Regions from separate parts of the Homo sapiens genome. Here region 2 is linked to region 1. The links come from fine-mapping of genetic effects on gene expression. A gene starts in region 1. The other region holds a variant in brackets. All regions are shown on one strand. Distances are between the middles of the regions. Region 1 holds the start of CPEB4 (cytoplasmic polyadenylation element binding protein 4). Region 2 holds the start of LOC107986482 (a long non-coding RNA gene).

Evidence for each region.
Region 2: its variant is fine-mapped to the expression of CPEB4 in whole blood (INTERVAL, PIP above 0.99).

The regions. Positions count from the first base shown.
Region 1 is chr5:173,885,254-173,893,541 of GRCh38, reverse strand. It overlaps CPEB4 (cytoplasmic polyadenylation element binding protein 4), which reads right to left and starts at 5,193. Exons shown (of 10, transcript NM_030627.4): 1 at 2,684-5,193. The coding sequence starts at 3,808. RefSeq lists a silencer at 2,622-2,916 and enhancers at 2,421-2,920, 2,921-3,422, 5,447-5,686.
Region 2 is chr5:173,774,595-173,782,914 of GRCh38, reverse strand. LOC107986482 (a long non-coding RNA gene) reads right to left here and starts at 4,639. Exons shown (of 2, transcript XR_001743004.2): 1 at 4,474-4,639. RefSeq lists a cis regulatory region at 642-652 and enhancers at 575-719, 3,850-4,069, 3,895-4,189, 3,946-5,145. The variant C/T (reference allele first, on the strand shown) is at 4,600.

The sequences.
Region 1 (8,288 bases):
TATTTTAATAGTAATTAAATTGAAGTGCTAATATCTATAAAATTTCTTTCCTAAAATTAATAGTGTTTAAGTTATAAATTATTTTTTTTTGAGACGGGGGTCTCACTATGTTGCCCAAGTTGGTCCCAAACTCCTGGGCTCATGCAATCCTTCTGCCTCAGCCTCCCAAGTAGCTGGGATTACAGGCACGTGCCTGCAAGTTATAAATTTAAATAAGACAAATTTAACCAAGTTACTTATACCAACTTAAAATGATACTTTTTCTCAAAAATAACTAATTCACAAGAATTATTGGTTTTTAAAAAGCAAAAAGAACTGTATCCATTTAAGTAAGAATCACAGTGGTCAGTTTACTTACTTCTTTAGACTTTTTCAAAACCCAATTAGGAGTTTCTTGTCATAGAGATTTTTTTCAAATCATTTATTTCTCTTGTGACTTTCAAATCACCCCACTGCTAGCTCTCTCCTCATACATGTGTGCGTGTGCTCTCTCTCTCTCTCTCTCACACACACACACACACACACACACACACACACACACACAGAGCTACAAATGGTGGGGATGAGGAGCAGAATTAACAATTTACTTTTGAATCTTACCATATTTGAAAGTCAGGTACACTGACCATCCTTTTCCCATAATCAATATAAAAGACAGCAGTTCTAAGGGAAGAGTTAGTTTCTAACAATATATTTTAGTATCAATCTTAGTCTAACTATTATTTCATAAATCAACTTAATCTCCAAAGAAACTGTTCAAAAAGATTTCACACATAACACACACTCTATTAGCCCAATAGGAAAAAATATTAATGTGCATATATGTATATTTTATTCATTGTCTGAACTTTTCATTTTTCCTAAAGCAATCTTAACAAAAGTCAGTAAGCTGAGAATGGGAACCAAACTGTGAGGCCACATAAATTCACTGTGTCAGCATATAGTAGCAAAATAAGAAAAAAAGGTGTATTTAGTTCTGAGCCAAATCTTAATCCAGTTAAAATGTACTGAATGTTAACTTACAATTTTTAAATTAGCAATATAAGAATAATTCATAAAACTTATCTTTGCATTAAATTTTCTTTAAATTTATGTTCAAAGGAATATCAAAGGCAACTTTTTAAAAATAGACTTCATGGGATTGTCAATGTCTTAAACAGCCTTTTTACTTGACCACTAAAGCACAGTAATTGATCTTTGGTTTTAACAACTGAAACCCTTTAAAGCAAATGCCAACAGCTTTTTGATAGGCAAAAAAAAAAAAAAATCGTTTTTAGAAGTCGAAAACTAAATATACCCACATATTTTAAGATGCACTGCACCTGAATCCTTAGGAAAGGAATGACATAGGGTTCTCTTAGCAAACTTCCCCTCCCTCTCAGTCAATTACTAATTAAAACAGATAATTCTGCTAGGGCTAACATCGTATTTGGGAACAGTGCAATGATTCTATAATCTGTTTCAGCCTTTGCAGAAATATTTCTAAAGTAACCCTCTAGCTGTAGCACATGTGTACGTGCACACATGTATGTATACATATTTTCAATCCTTGGGTTTGTTTTTTTTTTTAACTTAGAATTTGTACTCTGACCAGCTGTGTACCCTTGGCTAAGTTATTATATATTTCTCATATTCAATTTCTGCATCTGTAAAATGGGGATAATAACAGAACTCATCTTGTGAGGTTGTTGGGAAAACTAGATTCAATGCTAGATTCTTACCCCTTATAAATTTCCTAAACACATATAATCATACCCTCAAAGTATATACATTTAGTGGAGCATCTGACGTTCAACCACCTATGAAATTCCCTTTATCTAGTTCATATCAACCTAACTTGCTGCTCATTAATTCAAAAACATCAATGACTCTTGCCAGAATAAAGATATTCTGGTAGCAAGAAAGACAAATGATCTTTGCCTGGATCTATTTTTAGGAATGGTTTAATTATCTACATCTTCAATGTTAACATTGGAAAATAAACAAACGGGTGAAAGGCATAAAGAGTCACTCTGAGATGAACAGTTTCACAGTGTTCAAAAATAAATGGGGATGAAGAAAACATTTAGATCATTTCTCTCACTAGATAGTCCTTACTGATGAAAGGTAGGCCAAAATTTGCAGAGGTTTAAGAGGAATTGCCAAGTCCATCAATTCAGGCTGTTCAGACCTACAAGGTTCAGAGAGTTTCCAGGTTTAAAATGCAACCAACCAGTGAGAAAACTGTAATTCAATAGCTGGTTTTCAGTGAATCACTACCTTATAGTGTCAAAAGAAATTTGTTTAGTTATATAGTTACTTCAGAAAACATTCAATAGTTTCTGCAATGAAATATATTTATATCTATATATTATTTATTCTCATCTAAATAGGGAAAAAACTGACCCTGATTCTCATGTCAGGCAAGAAAGGTATTATAGTTAATAATTACTACATCACCAGCTACCAGGTATTCATAATTATCTATGACAAGATTAAGGCTACAATTTAGAAAACTGCCAAAGAAACAGCTGAATATTTTGTTCCAATTACACTCCTGCTAAAATAAAGTCTGGTTATTGATTCATTTTCTCTCTAAGAAAAGCTCTGATGTGAATACGGGCACTTCAAACTCTAGTTACATAGATATTACACCATGCTATTTCCTTATTCATCCTAATCTATTAATGGAACATAATCTTACCGGAAAAGGAAAAATGTTGTCAGCCCTGTTCAAGCTATCTTCCATCCAGGATTTAGGTGCAAAGGCAGAGCTGGGGCGAGCATACTTCTGGAGCTGAATATGATTGCTTGCAAAATTTTTCTTCAAAGGCGAGATGGAGTTCAGGGGCGTTATTCCACCATTCAGCCCTCTGCGGTGATCTCGGCCTTGGGAACCTCCCCAGCCACCATATCCACCACCGCCCGGGCTCCAGGAAGAGGAGGGTGTTGGTGACGGACTCTGGTAGCTGCTCCACGGAGAGGGGGGTTTGTTAAGATTATTCGCCAAATGAGGCAGCTGGTTAAAAGCAGCATTTCTATGTGTGAAGGGTGGGGGATGGGGACTGGCAGGAGACCTCCTTTGCTGCTGATGCTGGCTGTGATGATGCTGGAAATGAGGGTGATGTGGGTGGTGCTGTGAGAGAGGCCCGATCTGAGGAGAGAAGCTGCCTCCAAAGCCAGGGCTGACATGATGGGGGAAATTTTGAAACAACAGAGCACCGTTATTAGCCGAAGCAGCAGGGACCCCTCCCTGGTGAAAGAAACTTGCATCTTCATTGATTATTGTAGAGGAGGAAGGCGCTATCGCTGCTGACCAGTTACTGAAACCAGTAAGAGACGATGCGCTAGATGTCAAGGGTTGGGTTGAAGTACCTAGCCCAGTGGCTTCTTGATAATCAAACCCTGTCAACACTGGAGATTCGATCCTTATTTTCTCCTTCCCATTGCCATTTTCCGAAGAATTGTCCCCTTGATTTTCTTCTGATTTTGCCTTCTCTGTTTCAGGCAGTATTCCAGCTTCCTGACCTGGACTTGGGGAAAGCTGCTGCTTTTCTAAGGGGTCTTGCTGTTCCTGTTGCTGACTTTTTGCTTTTTCTGACCCCAAGATCTCATCCTGAATGTTATGGGTAGCTGGAGCAGGAAAAAGCCAAGCTGACCCAGCACTGCTGCCATTGGCAGCTGTGTTATTATTTATAAAAGCAGCAGGGCTGGGGGTGGCATTTTGGTGATGGTGTGGAGGCTGCAGATGTGGATGGAATCTGACTGGAAAAGCAGATTTATTCCCAGTATTGCTTTGCACTAGCACTCCAAACCCGTAATCCCCCATTTATTATCTTTAGGAGCAGAATCTCACAATAAAAAATGACAACCTGATGTCTCACGCCTTTTTTTTCCTCTACCCCAAATTTAAGTTGTTTGCTTGCTTGCTTGAAATGTCTTATTTATAGCTAGCTCAAAGATCGCAGCTTATCACCTTAAATTGTTCTGATTTGGAATTCTGGTCTCTGAAAGAAAAAACAACTCTTAAAAAAATCTCTTAAAACATTGACTTGGATCCAATTGGGCTTATTTTTAGGAGGGAATAAAAATGAAGAGGGTAAAAATCAAGTCTTTGGTTAGTAAAATAGGCGCTTTCTTTTTCCAAAGGAAAATGTACATGAATGACAAAAACAGAGCTTCTCAAGCATCTATGGATGTAGAAGAATAAGCCTTGCGCGGAGTAAAAATATAGATATATATAATTTAACAATCACATATGGTTTTCCTCAGCAGTTTAGATTCACTCACATAAAAATTAGAATAGGACTAAGAGGGGAATACGTTCTTTTCTTGGCAGCTTGGTTAAAAAAAAATCAGGAATAATTTAAGAACATTATATATTATATATTTATATATATAGATTATATTAGGTTATCTGGGGTGGGAAGTGAATTCCTGGTTTCGGGAGAGGAAATCAGCATTGACTAATGGAAAGATGATTGCAGGGAGGTTTCTGCTGTTCCTGGTCCTGTTTTCTGCTCTTTCGCAGGGTGCAGTTTTGGCCTCTGGGGCTGTTCCTGAGGCTCCGGGTGCAGATCTTGCTGCGGTCGCTGTTCCTGGGCTCCCCGCGGCTTCCTCTCCCCCATGAAAGGGGTTGGAAACACCCGTTTCTCCCTCTTGCGGGGGTCGCGATCAGGAGGGATTAGCGAGACTCGACGAGGGTGAGCGGGCGGCCTGGGGGTGCGGGGACCGAGGGGGCGACCTGGAAGGTCCTGCGGTTTCTGCCTCTTCCCCTCTCTGCGGCTCCGGGGTTTTTTTCCCTCATGGGACCCAGGGGCGGTTTGTTCAGTTCCCTCAGTTCGATTCTCCGCAGAGAGGGAAAAAAGAGGAAAAAAAGGAAAAACCCACTACCGTAGTTATTTTAAAGGAGAAGGGCCTCCCCCCTCGGCTTTCTCTCTCTTTTCCCCCAGAATTTTTTTTTAAACTATAATTTAGAAGGCTTTTGTTTCTCCTCACGGTTGCTGGGCCGTCGCCGCCGTCGCCGCTTTACCCTGGTCCCGCAGTCCCCGCTGTCGTTGTTGAGGACTCCTCCTGGTTCTTCTTTTTCTTTCCTTCTTCCTCCTCTTCCTCCTCTGCTGTCGCCGCTGCTGCCGCCGCCGCCGCCGCCACCGCCTCCCGGTGCCCGGGTCCCGCAGCCGCGGCTGAGTCCTTCTCCTCAGGACCGAGCCGAGTGAAATGACAACCAGCTGGAAAGACCCAGAGACACTTCCGGTTCGAAGAGGGAGGGGTGGGGGTAGCACTCATTCCCCACCTACCTGCCGGAAGACCAATCATCTGTTAGAACTCAGGCGAGGCCACGCCCCCTCGCTTCAGAGCTACTCCCAGGAAGGTCGAAAAGTTACCTCCAGAGACGCCTCTTCCGTCTGCGCCTCGCCTAGTGAGGCCCGGCGCCTGGAACCCGCTTCCCCCACCCAGAGTGAGCGCAGCAGGTCGCCATCTTTTGTGTGGGCAAGGGACTCCTTTGATATTTCTCTTCCCTAACTGGGCTTTGCAGGAGGAGCAATAGGGACGTGTCAAGGAGAACGGATTCCTCGCTCACGAAGGCATACGGTCAAGGTGTTGGAGATCGAAGTGGCGGCCCGTGAAACCGCGGATGAATGAGAAGGGTGCCCACAGTAAAGGTGGTGCTCCAAGCATCACGTGCTCTGGCCCGAGCTCCGCCCCAGAGGGATCTGGAAGGGGAGGCGGGTCTTGCCAGCAGCTGTGCGGTGCCTAGAACTGCGTTTGCCCTTGCCCAGAATGTAGACCTCACGAGGGACTCTCCCTTAACCTTCCATTCGCTCACCCGCACCTCCCACTCTCCCATTCTGCTAGGCTCGCATCTGGTGCAGTCTCCCAGGTGCAGAGATGCAGCTGAGGCGTCTGTGGCTATGCCCCCGTATCATCCCGATCTAGTACACCTTACACGCAATACCAGAGGGAAAATTCCAAAACTAAAATTTTATCTTGACCCTCACATGCTCCGATTTCTTCTATGGTTGCCCATTATTTCGAAGATAAAGGCCAAACTTGTTAGTCTGGTATTCAAGCCTTTCTACCTAATGGGTGGTATATCTTAGTGCCTCTTCCCCCTCCAAACACACTCTCAATGCCTTTTTACATGTCCTTTCCACTCTTCTCCTTTGGTAAATTCCTATTTATTTCTAGGAATCAGTTCAAAAGCCACCAACAGCATCTTCTGAATTCTCTCTTATAAGCGTCCACGGCCCTGTGTACCTCTCGTGCTTGTTTCTCACACTATATTGTGATGGTTTATGTCTTCCAGACCTGTGCTGGACCGTGGGCTCTTTCAGGAGCAGACATTGTAGATAGGAGACATCAGTGAATGAATCCTGAAAACGTGAATGAACAAACCAGCAACAATGAAGTCTTCCCTGAGTGACAGCCCCCCAACCCACTGCCACCCCTTCCACCCGTCACCCACCCCCCACCCCTCACTCCTGTTTCCAAGTCTGAATTAATTATTTCCTTCCTTTTGCCATTTGGTTTGGAGCTCACATATCAGACTTTTCATTATGTTTGGTACTCAAGGGCTTTAATGTCCTGTTTATCTTTGTACATTCCCAACGCTATGACCACCATCAGGGCTTAGGATAATGCTTTGCTCTCAGCACAGCTTTAAATATGTTAAATAAGTGAGTATTTTCCTTTAGCAGGAAGAAAAATGAACAAAGAAATCAGGGTAGAGCCAGAAGTAACTGGCACAACTAGAGGGAAAAAAAAGATACCAAGATTAATGAAAAATAGTATGAACAAAGGTGGCTTCCATTTCATTTCCATAGCCTTCCTCTAATGGTCTCAACTTCTGCCTCAGTCTGTCAATCCTCCATCACTTCCGTGTAGAACACCTGAGGGCCTTCAATCGGTGATTTTATTCTCTTTCATTGTGCCATGAGCATGAGTCTTGTCTCTGTAACTCTACTATGGATTCTTTGAGCATAGAGATTGGGTCTTACCTGCTGTTTATTCCCTACAACTGGACATGCCTGGAAACTTAGCTGGTTCCGTCAGGTGTCTTTTCCGCCAGAATGGTTTCCTTGACTGGCCCTCTCTCTAATGTCTTGTAGATTGCTCTCTTTTAATTACTGCTGGTTGTCAGTGGGTTAGTTTCTTAAGGGCAGAGGTTGTGTCTGATTTATCTTTATGTCCCCAGTGGCCAGAAGAGGGTCTGGCACAGAGCAGACTCAAAACTCAGAACACATTTATTGAATGAACAAATGAATGTTCCATGCCCAGAAGATGGTTTAGGGTCCCTCAGAGCTACTAATTATCAGTGGCTAAAATGGCAGCCATGACTTGGAAAAAAGAGCACCTTTGGAACCAAACAGCCCTGAATTTGAATCCCAGCTCTGCTGCTTCCTAGCTGTGCAAAACTGGGCATCACCTCTATAAGCCCTTGGTTCCTTCTAGATAAAATGTGAATGATATTTCCTCTCTTGCTAAGTTTGTAAATTACATGGGATACATGTGAAGTGCTGGACTCCTAAAAAGTTTTATTAGTCCATTTTCACACTGCTATAAAGAAATGCCCAAGACTGGGTAATTTATAAAGGAAAGAGGTTTAATTGACTCACAGTTCCACGTGACTGGGGAAGCCTCAGGAAACTTACAATCATGCCGGAAGGCGAAGGGGAAGCAAGCACTTTCTTCACAAGGCGGCAGGAGAGACCAGAGTGAAAGAAGAACTGTCAAACACTTATAAAACCATCAGAGCTCATGAGAACTCACTATCAGGAGAACAGCATGGGGAAACTGCCCCCTTGATCCAATCACCTCCCTCTGTCTACACATAAGGATTACAATTTGAGATAAGAGTTGGGTGGGGACACAGAGCCAAACCATATCAGAGGTGATCAAAAATGTCACTTCCTTTGTAACACATTAAATGCAGGGAATTCCTTCACAAGTGTCTTTTGCCTAGAAGCAGCTGTGTGCACAAGGGAATCCAGGAACTTGTCTTGGTTGATAAAAGGTGGAGACGCCCAGGGCCACAGTCAGGTGCTGCCAAGTCGGGCTAATCTTTTAAGGCTAAGTCAGGTGTGGGCAGTAGATTGGGATGGTTTGCAGCTAGGATGATCACTAAGACATCAGACTCTTGCTTAGGGACTGGAAGTATGGAAGAAGGAAGGGGGAAATCTATTATTTTCTTTTCTTTTTTCTTTTTTTTTTTTGGCATCAGTTGCCTACTCAGGAACCCAGGATACCCAGAGCCCAGGGCTGCGCTCCTTGAAAACATTCTGGCCTCAGAAACTTCCCATGGTAACCAT
Region 2 (8,320 bases), 110 kb after region 1:
CATGGGTACACATGCATACGTCTCATGGAAAAGATATCATGAAGTGTACAGCTTTCTGTAGGTGACAAAGCATTTTTGCGTTTGTTATCTGACTCCACACTCCACATAAGGTTGCCAGATTTAACAAATAAAGTCATGAGACACACAGTTAAATTTGAGCAATATTTGGGACATGCGTACTGAAAAAAATCATCATTTATCTGACATTCAAATGTAACTGGACTTTCTGTATTTTATCTGGCAACCCTAACTCTACAACCCTCAGAAGTAGACAATATTAGCGTCCCCATTTGATCACTGAGGCTGAGAAAGTAAATTGCCTAAAGTCAATAAAGGATCAAAGGGTGAAAGAACTGCCCCTTTGCCCATTCACTGGTTGCTGGGAGAATGATCACTCCTGGATCTCATCTTCAGGCATCAGATGTGCTGGGGCCAAGTGTGGGGATCTCAGGGCAAGGAGGGAGGGGAGAAATGGAGGGACTGGCCATCATGAGTAGTGGACTACAAAGACTTCATAACAGAGGGCAGGGGCAGGGAGGTGTTGATGCTTTGTTGCAACTTAGTTTTGGTTTGCTTACTTTACCAGGGCCTGGGCACCCCAGCCAACAGGCTGGAAATGCAGGAAGCCATCTGGAGCCATGTGCTGAGTCACAGGGCCCAGAGAAAAACAAGAACATCGTGACGTCAGAGCAGGGGTGGGGAGAAATCTCCCTCGAGATCTCCGTGGGCACCGGAAATAGAAACTGCTCCCTTTGAAGCATCTATTAGAAGATCCAAGTCTCTAACAGATCACCATGAGATTTCAATTCAGTTCCTATTAAGCACCAACTGAACGCATGTGAGAATGTCAGGGAATCAGTTGGTGAAGAGGCAACCGTTTTAATTTAATTTTATTTATTTGAACAGAGTAAGCCTCTGTTCAATCCTGACTCATCTTCTTTCTTCTCTTACTACCCATTTGCCCTTGAGCAGTTCACTTAAACTTTCTGACCCCATTTCCTCTTCAGTAATAATAATTCTTGTCTCATTGAGATAGTGTGAGGGCTTAAAGGGAATTACATTTTTCAAAAGCATCTTGCACAGATCTGGCACAGTCAGTGGTAGGTCTTCTTAGCATAAGGATATAAAAAGATCTTTCTGTAAGGTTGGTGTGGGGATTAAATTGGATGACATATCTTTACTTTCAAGCAAGCTCTGGACTGAGCTCTTACTAAGGTTTCAGCTAAGGAGAGAGATTTCTTTCCTCCTCTCTAGACACTGGGGTAACTGGTTCTGGTCCCCCAGTGTTCTGGTTAGTAGAACTAAATACGTACACGCACAATGAATGTTTACACAACATCCGCTCATTCCATTCCACAAATATTTCTTTTAACATTGTACACATTACTGGCTCAGCCTTTGTAGAGGTCTAGAAAAACAAAATTAGGATGAATATCCCCATTTTGTTGCTGTTTTTTGTTTTTGTTTTTGTTTTTTAAGACGGAGTTTCACTCTGTCACCGAGGCTGAAGTGCAGTGGTGCCATCTCGGCTCACTGCAAGCTCCACGTCTCGGGTTCAAGCAATTCTCCTGCCTCAGCCTCCCAAATAGCTGGGACCACAGGGGCACACCATCTCGGGTGGCTAATTTTTTGTATTTTAGTAGAGACGATGTTTCACCATGTTGCCAAAGCTAATCACGAACTCCTGAGCTTAGGCAATCTGCCCGCCTCAGCCTCCCAAAGTGCTGGGATTGCAGGCATGAGCCACCGCTCCCGGCCTGCTGCTGATTTTTTAATAATCATTCTGTGGGAGGCACTATGCTAAGTATTTTGCATGCATCGAATTCTTGGAGCAATCTTTTCAAATTCGTGCTATAGTAACCCCCATTTTATAGATGGAGCAACTGAGGCTCAGTAGAGTTGACTGTGCTGCCCAAATGCACAGAACTAGTGGGTGGCAGAGTTGAGGCTCAATCCCAGCCCTGATTATCTCAAAGGTTCTGACTGTCACACTATGCGTGAGCTCCCAGAGAGAGAAAAACACTCAGTTGAAAATTTAGAGTTACTCATGCACAAAGGTATATAAACAACACAAAGTGGTTAGATGGGCAAATGCTGACGGAGAGGCTGGTAATCAGAGTTATGGGCAGTTCTGGGCTGGGAGATCTCCCTGAGAGCTGTACTATGAAAAGGGGCTTTCTAGAAGGTGAAAGTTTAGGTGGGGAGTAAAGCTAGACCTTGAAAAATGATGTGGAACAGGTAACAAAGCAAAGGCACGTTGAGCAGAGGCCCAGATGGTTTGGCCAAATATGGGCTGAGCTTAGTGAAGGTCAGGTAACCAAGGCAAGGTGTGCTTTGGAGAACAAAAGGAGGAAGGTTGAGCTGGCACAGTCTGGCTGGCTGGTATTAGCTTCTTGAATGATAAGCTCTTCAGCCTGGCTGGGGTGACTTCTAACTTCGGAACATCACTGCTTAGGGGATTCCTGTGTATCACACATTGGGCCTGAGCAGCAGAGCTAGGAGTTGTTCCTGTTATTGGAAAGGGAGGAAGTTTCTGCAGAGTAAGTGGGCATGATCTGTCTTGCTGGAGGGCCTCAACCTTTACTCTCCTGGGTAAGAGGAGACAATGATATTTCCATGGTCTTCAGAGCATTCTGCTGAGAAGCCCACAAGCTAAGGGCCATTACAGCAAACTCAGAGATGATACAACCTTTCTGCAGACCATGGTAATATATATGAAGAGGATTAAAACGATGTAACCCTTTGTTCCCTCAATTTTACTGCTAGGAATTAATCCAAGGGAAGTGGTCATGGAGAGATGAGAAAATGTGTGTATGGACAAAGATGGTCACTGTAGAATGTAGTATTAACTTACAAACACAAGAATCAGAAATGTCCCACCTAGTCAGTAATGGGGGCTTAGTTAAAAATTATGATCCAGGCCGGGTGCAGTGGCTCATGGCTGTAATCCCAGCACTTTTGGAGGCTGAGGCAGGCAGATCACCTGAGGTCAGGAATTCGAGCCAATATGGTGAAACCCCGTCTCTACAAAAATTAGCCTGGCATGATGGTGTGTGCCTATAATCCCAGCTATTCAGGAGGCTGAGGCACAAGAATCACTTGAACCTGGGAGGCAGAGGTTGCAGTGAGCAGAGATCGTGCCACTGCACTCCAGCCTGGGTGATAGAGTGAGATTCAGTCTCAAAAAAAAAAAAAAAAAGAAAAGAAAAGAAATTTTGATCCACCCATACAAGGGAATGCTACACTTCCATTCAAAGTCAAGGTGGTCACACCATAGCAGGGAAAAATCAGTTATAAAAACATTAAATATAGTATGATCCTAGCTCACAAGTACATTAATCCAATTCATTCACTTATTAACTATGTAATGAAGATGTGCTGTATGCCAAGCACCATTCTGGGTACTGGGAATATGGACAGGAACAAGCTCAGGGTGGGAAGTTGTTTAGGGAAAGACAGGTAATACATATATGGACTTAAGAATACACAAGATAATTTCTGAGCATGGCACACAATGCCATGAAGAAAGGCATGCAAGATGGACTAGTTTAGTGTGCGTGAAGATGGAGGGACTATCCAAGGAGGTGACATTTCGGCCATGACTTGCACGCTGAAAAAAAAAAAATCCAGTCATGATTTCCAGAGTCATGAAATCCAGAGCATTTCAGGCAAAGAGGCGAAGGCCTTGAGGGGAAATGCCATTGGTGTATTAGGAGGGAAAAAGAAAGAGAAATAATGTGTGAGTAGAGAGAGAAGAGGTAGGAGAGGCAAGCAGGGCCAGATCACACAGACTGAAAGTCAAGGTGAAGTGTTGATAAGGAGTGTGGATTTCCTTCCAAGTGCTGTAGAAAGCTACCGGGTTCTATGTAGGCAATCATCATACAGTTGACCTTCAAACAACACAGGTTTGAACTGCACAGGTCCACTTACAGGTGACTTTTCTTCCACCTCTGCCACCCCTGAGAGAGCAGGACCAACCACTCCTTTTCCTCCTCCTCAGCCTACTCGAGTTGATGATGACAAGGGTGAAGACCTTTATGCTGAGTCACTTCTGCGTAGTGAACGTAAATATACTTTCTCTTCCTTATGATTTTCTCAATAACATTTTCTTTACTCTAGCTTCCTTTATTGTAAGAATACAGTATACAATACATATAACATACAAAATATGTTAATTGACTGTTTATGTTCTCAGCAAGGCTTGCAGTCAACAGTAGGCTATCTGTAGTGTTTTGGGGAGTCAAAAGTTGTATGCAGATTTTCAACTCTGAGGGGGGTCAACACCCCAACTTCCATATCGTTCAGGGTTCAACTCTCTTTATGTATCCGGAAGGAAATACACCAACAGGTTAGTAGAGATTATTAACAAGTAGTGGGGTAATAAACCGTGTTTAAAAATCTGTGTGCTATTCTGTAACTCCTGAACTTTTGTAATTAGAAACAAACAGTAATTTCCATTTTTAAAGAACTCACCAGAGAGCAACATCGACAGATGACAACCATCACCTGGAGCTCCAGTTTGAAGAGGCTTTTCCCTGAGCAATCTCTTTTGATTTTCACGATAACCCTGTGAGTGAAGCCAGACCATTGTCATTAAGA[C/T]CTCCATTTTGGAGGTGAGGCAATTGAGGCCGGGAGTTGCAAAGAGGCTGAGGCAGGAAATGACAAAACTGGGACAGGAATCAAGGTTCCACAACACTGGTCTAAGCTTCCTGATTTTGTGGCCCAGCCAGGCTAATGGCTGAGTCTGCATCAAATTCACCCAGAGACCCCAGGGCCCTAACAGGAAGTCTACAAGGTTACTCTCCTGCTTCGGGGAGGGCAGGGATGGACCTAGAGCCCCCAGCTGCCGATGACTGGAACAAAAAGAGGGTCTTTCCCACATAGTAGATGCTCAACAAACATTTGTTGAATTAATGCAATAGCTTGCTTTTGGGGGAAATGCCACCTTGGGGAGGATGGTTTTGCTGACTTTACAATTTAGTAGCTGTGCATCCTCCTCTGTCACTCCCCTCCACAAAGTTGGAGTGTAGGCTCTGGAGCCGGAATGTCTGGGCTTGAATCTGCCTCTACCACTGACCACCAGCTGTGACCTACCCTTTCCACCTCAGTTTTCTGATCTGTAAAGTGGGAGTAATAATGATGGTCTCCTTGGGTTACTGTTTGGATTAAATGAATGAATGAAGGCTTTGAAGAGATGTTGGCATACAGTGTGTGCTCCATAAGCGTCAGAGGTTACTAGCATCAGCATGAAAGGGCTGTTGAAAGGGTGAGGTGAGGCTCCTGGCAGCACAGGCAGAGCTGAGCAGGGTCTCAATGGGTGATGGCTACCGCGGCTGTCCTTCTACCCCCATGACTCCCCTTGCTGGTGCCTCAGTGGTTATTCACAGGAAACATACAGAAATGCACTGCACATCATTTTTTAGAGAAGGGACACCCCTATCCACCAGAAGGGTCCTTTGCCAAGTCAAATAATAGACCTGTACTCTCTCATCTCAGGAGGTTTCTGTCTGTTCAAGGTCACGTGAAGAATTTCCTGGCACTTTCCAGTGTCTCTGACTCTAATTCATTTAAAGAGCCACCTTTTAAATTTCAGGCTTGACATTTGCTTAATAACATGTGTGGAGCCTGCTCTGGTGAGCGGCCCCAGGGTCACCAGCCCATCCCTCTGTCCTCCACTCCTGCTTTCAAACTTCAATGGTTTAAGGTCTACCGATAATTTTGCTATCACTGCATATCATGTGGTCTAGTCTTTCCCTCATTATTTTTCCTCAACTTGTCTCCCATTTAAAACTTAAAATACATTTCTTCAAAAGGAAAACTTACTACCATAGATGGAAAGCCAATCCCACCTGCTACAAATAGAAGCTATCCAGAAAAAGATATACCACGAAAATAAAATGATATTATGAAACTCTAGAATATTTAATTCTAGAGGAATAGGGTTGCCTGTGGAAGACTCTGGGCTTGAGGCCTGTTTGATTCCCATTTGAAAGGGAGATTTGGAGAGGTGTTAAAGTTTGAGGGAGGCGTTAAAGACCTATTAGTACCAAAGTGAGATTTTCTTCTTGGTGTAATGACAAGGATTGAAAGAGAATTTTCACAGGAGAAAAACTCTCTTACCACAGGATGCAATCTATTTGTTTCCCTGTCTTTTCACTTTCCCCTACTCCCCAGGGGCAAGGGGCTCCCTATTGTATGATTCAGTTCTTTATTGAGAAGAGTTAAAGAGAGAGCAGCCCAGCCCCAGCTTCTTGCTTATTATATCATGCAAATAAGATTCTTTCCCTGCTTTGAAATGAGGGAGCCGAATTAGAGAGATGTTCTTCTCAGAGGATCTCCAGGCCCTGAAAGTCTGCGAGGCCCCATCCAAAAGTTCATTTGGCTGCTGTCTTGGTCATTCCAGGCTGCCATAGCAGAATACCATAGACTGGGTGGCTTATAAACTACAGAAATTTATTCCTCGCAGTTTTGGAGGCTGGAAGTTGAAGATCAGTCACTGGCAGTTTGGAATCTGACGAGGGTCTGCTTTGTGGTTCACAGACAGCTCCTTCTTGCTGTGCCCTCACATGGCAGAAGAGGCCAGGCAGCTCTCTGGGGTCTCTTTCTAAGGGCACTAATCTCATCAATGGGGCTCCACCCTCATGACCTAATCACCTCCCAAAGGCCTCCCTACTAATACCATTGCCTGGGGGTTCACTTTCAATATAAGACTGGGTTGGGGGCAGGCAGACAAAAACACTGTCGATAGCACCTGCACATAAACGTGTTCTCATCCGCTCAGCAACAGAGTTGAAACCTATCAAGAGGATGGCCCCGTGGCATGGGTTGTGTAGCTGAATCTTCCTAAGGAGTAAAGACGTAGGATCCATCACATACCCACAAATAAATTCACGTTTCCTGGGGGTGGATTTTCTGCTTGTTGAACTGAGCAGATGGCTGTGCTTGAGACGAAAAAGGAAGTTGCTAAACCCTCTCTCTGCCCAGTGCAGAATTTGGAAAGAAACAACCAAATAACCCGCTCACTTCAGGTTCTGTCCCCTGTTTCAGTAGCCCCTGCGGATTCCTCCTGCAGTGGTTTCCTTATCAGAGTCCCTGGGAGGCGCTGCCAATGCATCATTCCTAAATTACTATGTTTTCATATCTCCTCCCTTCTCCTAAATCAGAGGGGACCTGCCTCATCTGGGTGCTGCATGCTGGTTTCTTAGCCTGATGCTCAAGACCTCATGCAGTGTGATTTCAACCTACAATCCTATGGCAGCCCTGGCTGCTGGGATTTCCTTCCTTGAATCTTCTGCTTCTGACAAGCTGGTTACCTGGCACACAGCAGGCATGAAGAAATGTTTTTGCATGAAAGAATATGCCTTCTGCTGTGCTGCAGTTTGCCTCCGTTCATCTCAACATATATTCCTTGAGTGACCGGGACAACTGGTGCTTGAAGACTTCCTATATGCCAGACACTGGTAGGGTGGGCACTGCTCCAATTTGCCCTGGACTTTCCTGATTTTAGCCCTGGAAGCCATGTCTCAGAAATCCCCCACCCCACCCCAGGCAAATTGGGACAGTTGGTCTTCCTAATAAATTGGGCTCCATGCATTCTATTTTCATGGGACTTCCAACATAGAGTAGATGACATTAAACAAATTATCCCACAAAGAAATGCATAATTATAAACCATGGCAGGTGCAGAGGAGAAGTCAACCCTGAGCTGGGCACTGTGGATATGAAGAGAAAAAGACACAGTCAGGCCTTGGCAAAGCATCCTGCTTGTAACTAGGAGAGAGAGGGACACACAGCTTATTTAATGTAAAGTGGTGAGCACAGTGAATCAGAAACCTACACTCTCTTATCCCTGTTCACATTATACTGTTTCTATTTTAATTGGGGTTTCAAACATTGGAAACCCACTCTGGTGAATTAAATAGAGGTGTATTGAAAGGGCTTTGGAAGGAAAAGCTGAAAAATAGGCCTTGGAAGAGAGAGAAACAATTGCTTCTTAGGGAGTTGAGATAGTCAAAAAATTATGCCAGAACAAAAGAACATGCTTTGTTCCACTTCCATTAGAAAAACTGACTCTAGCCATTCAATGCCCTTGGGTTTCTCTGGCCAATATCCTGATTCCAGGAAGAAAGTATATGGTGGCCAAGCTTGGGTCTCATGCCAGCCCCTTGGCCAGTCTAGCAGGGCACCATAATTAGAAATTCCACCAAAACCGCGTGCAGCTGGGCATGGGGACAGGCAGTTGCTATGGGCAATGGAGGGGCGGGAGCTGGGAAGGTGAAGGCCACAGCTGCCTGCTCTCTCCTCTTCAAAAAGGGGCCCA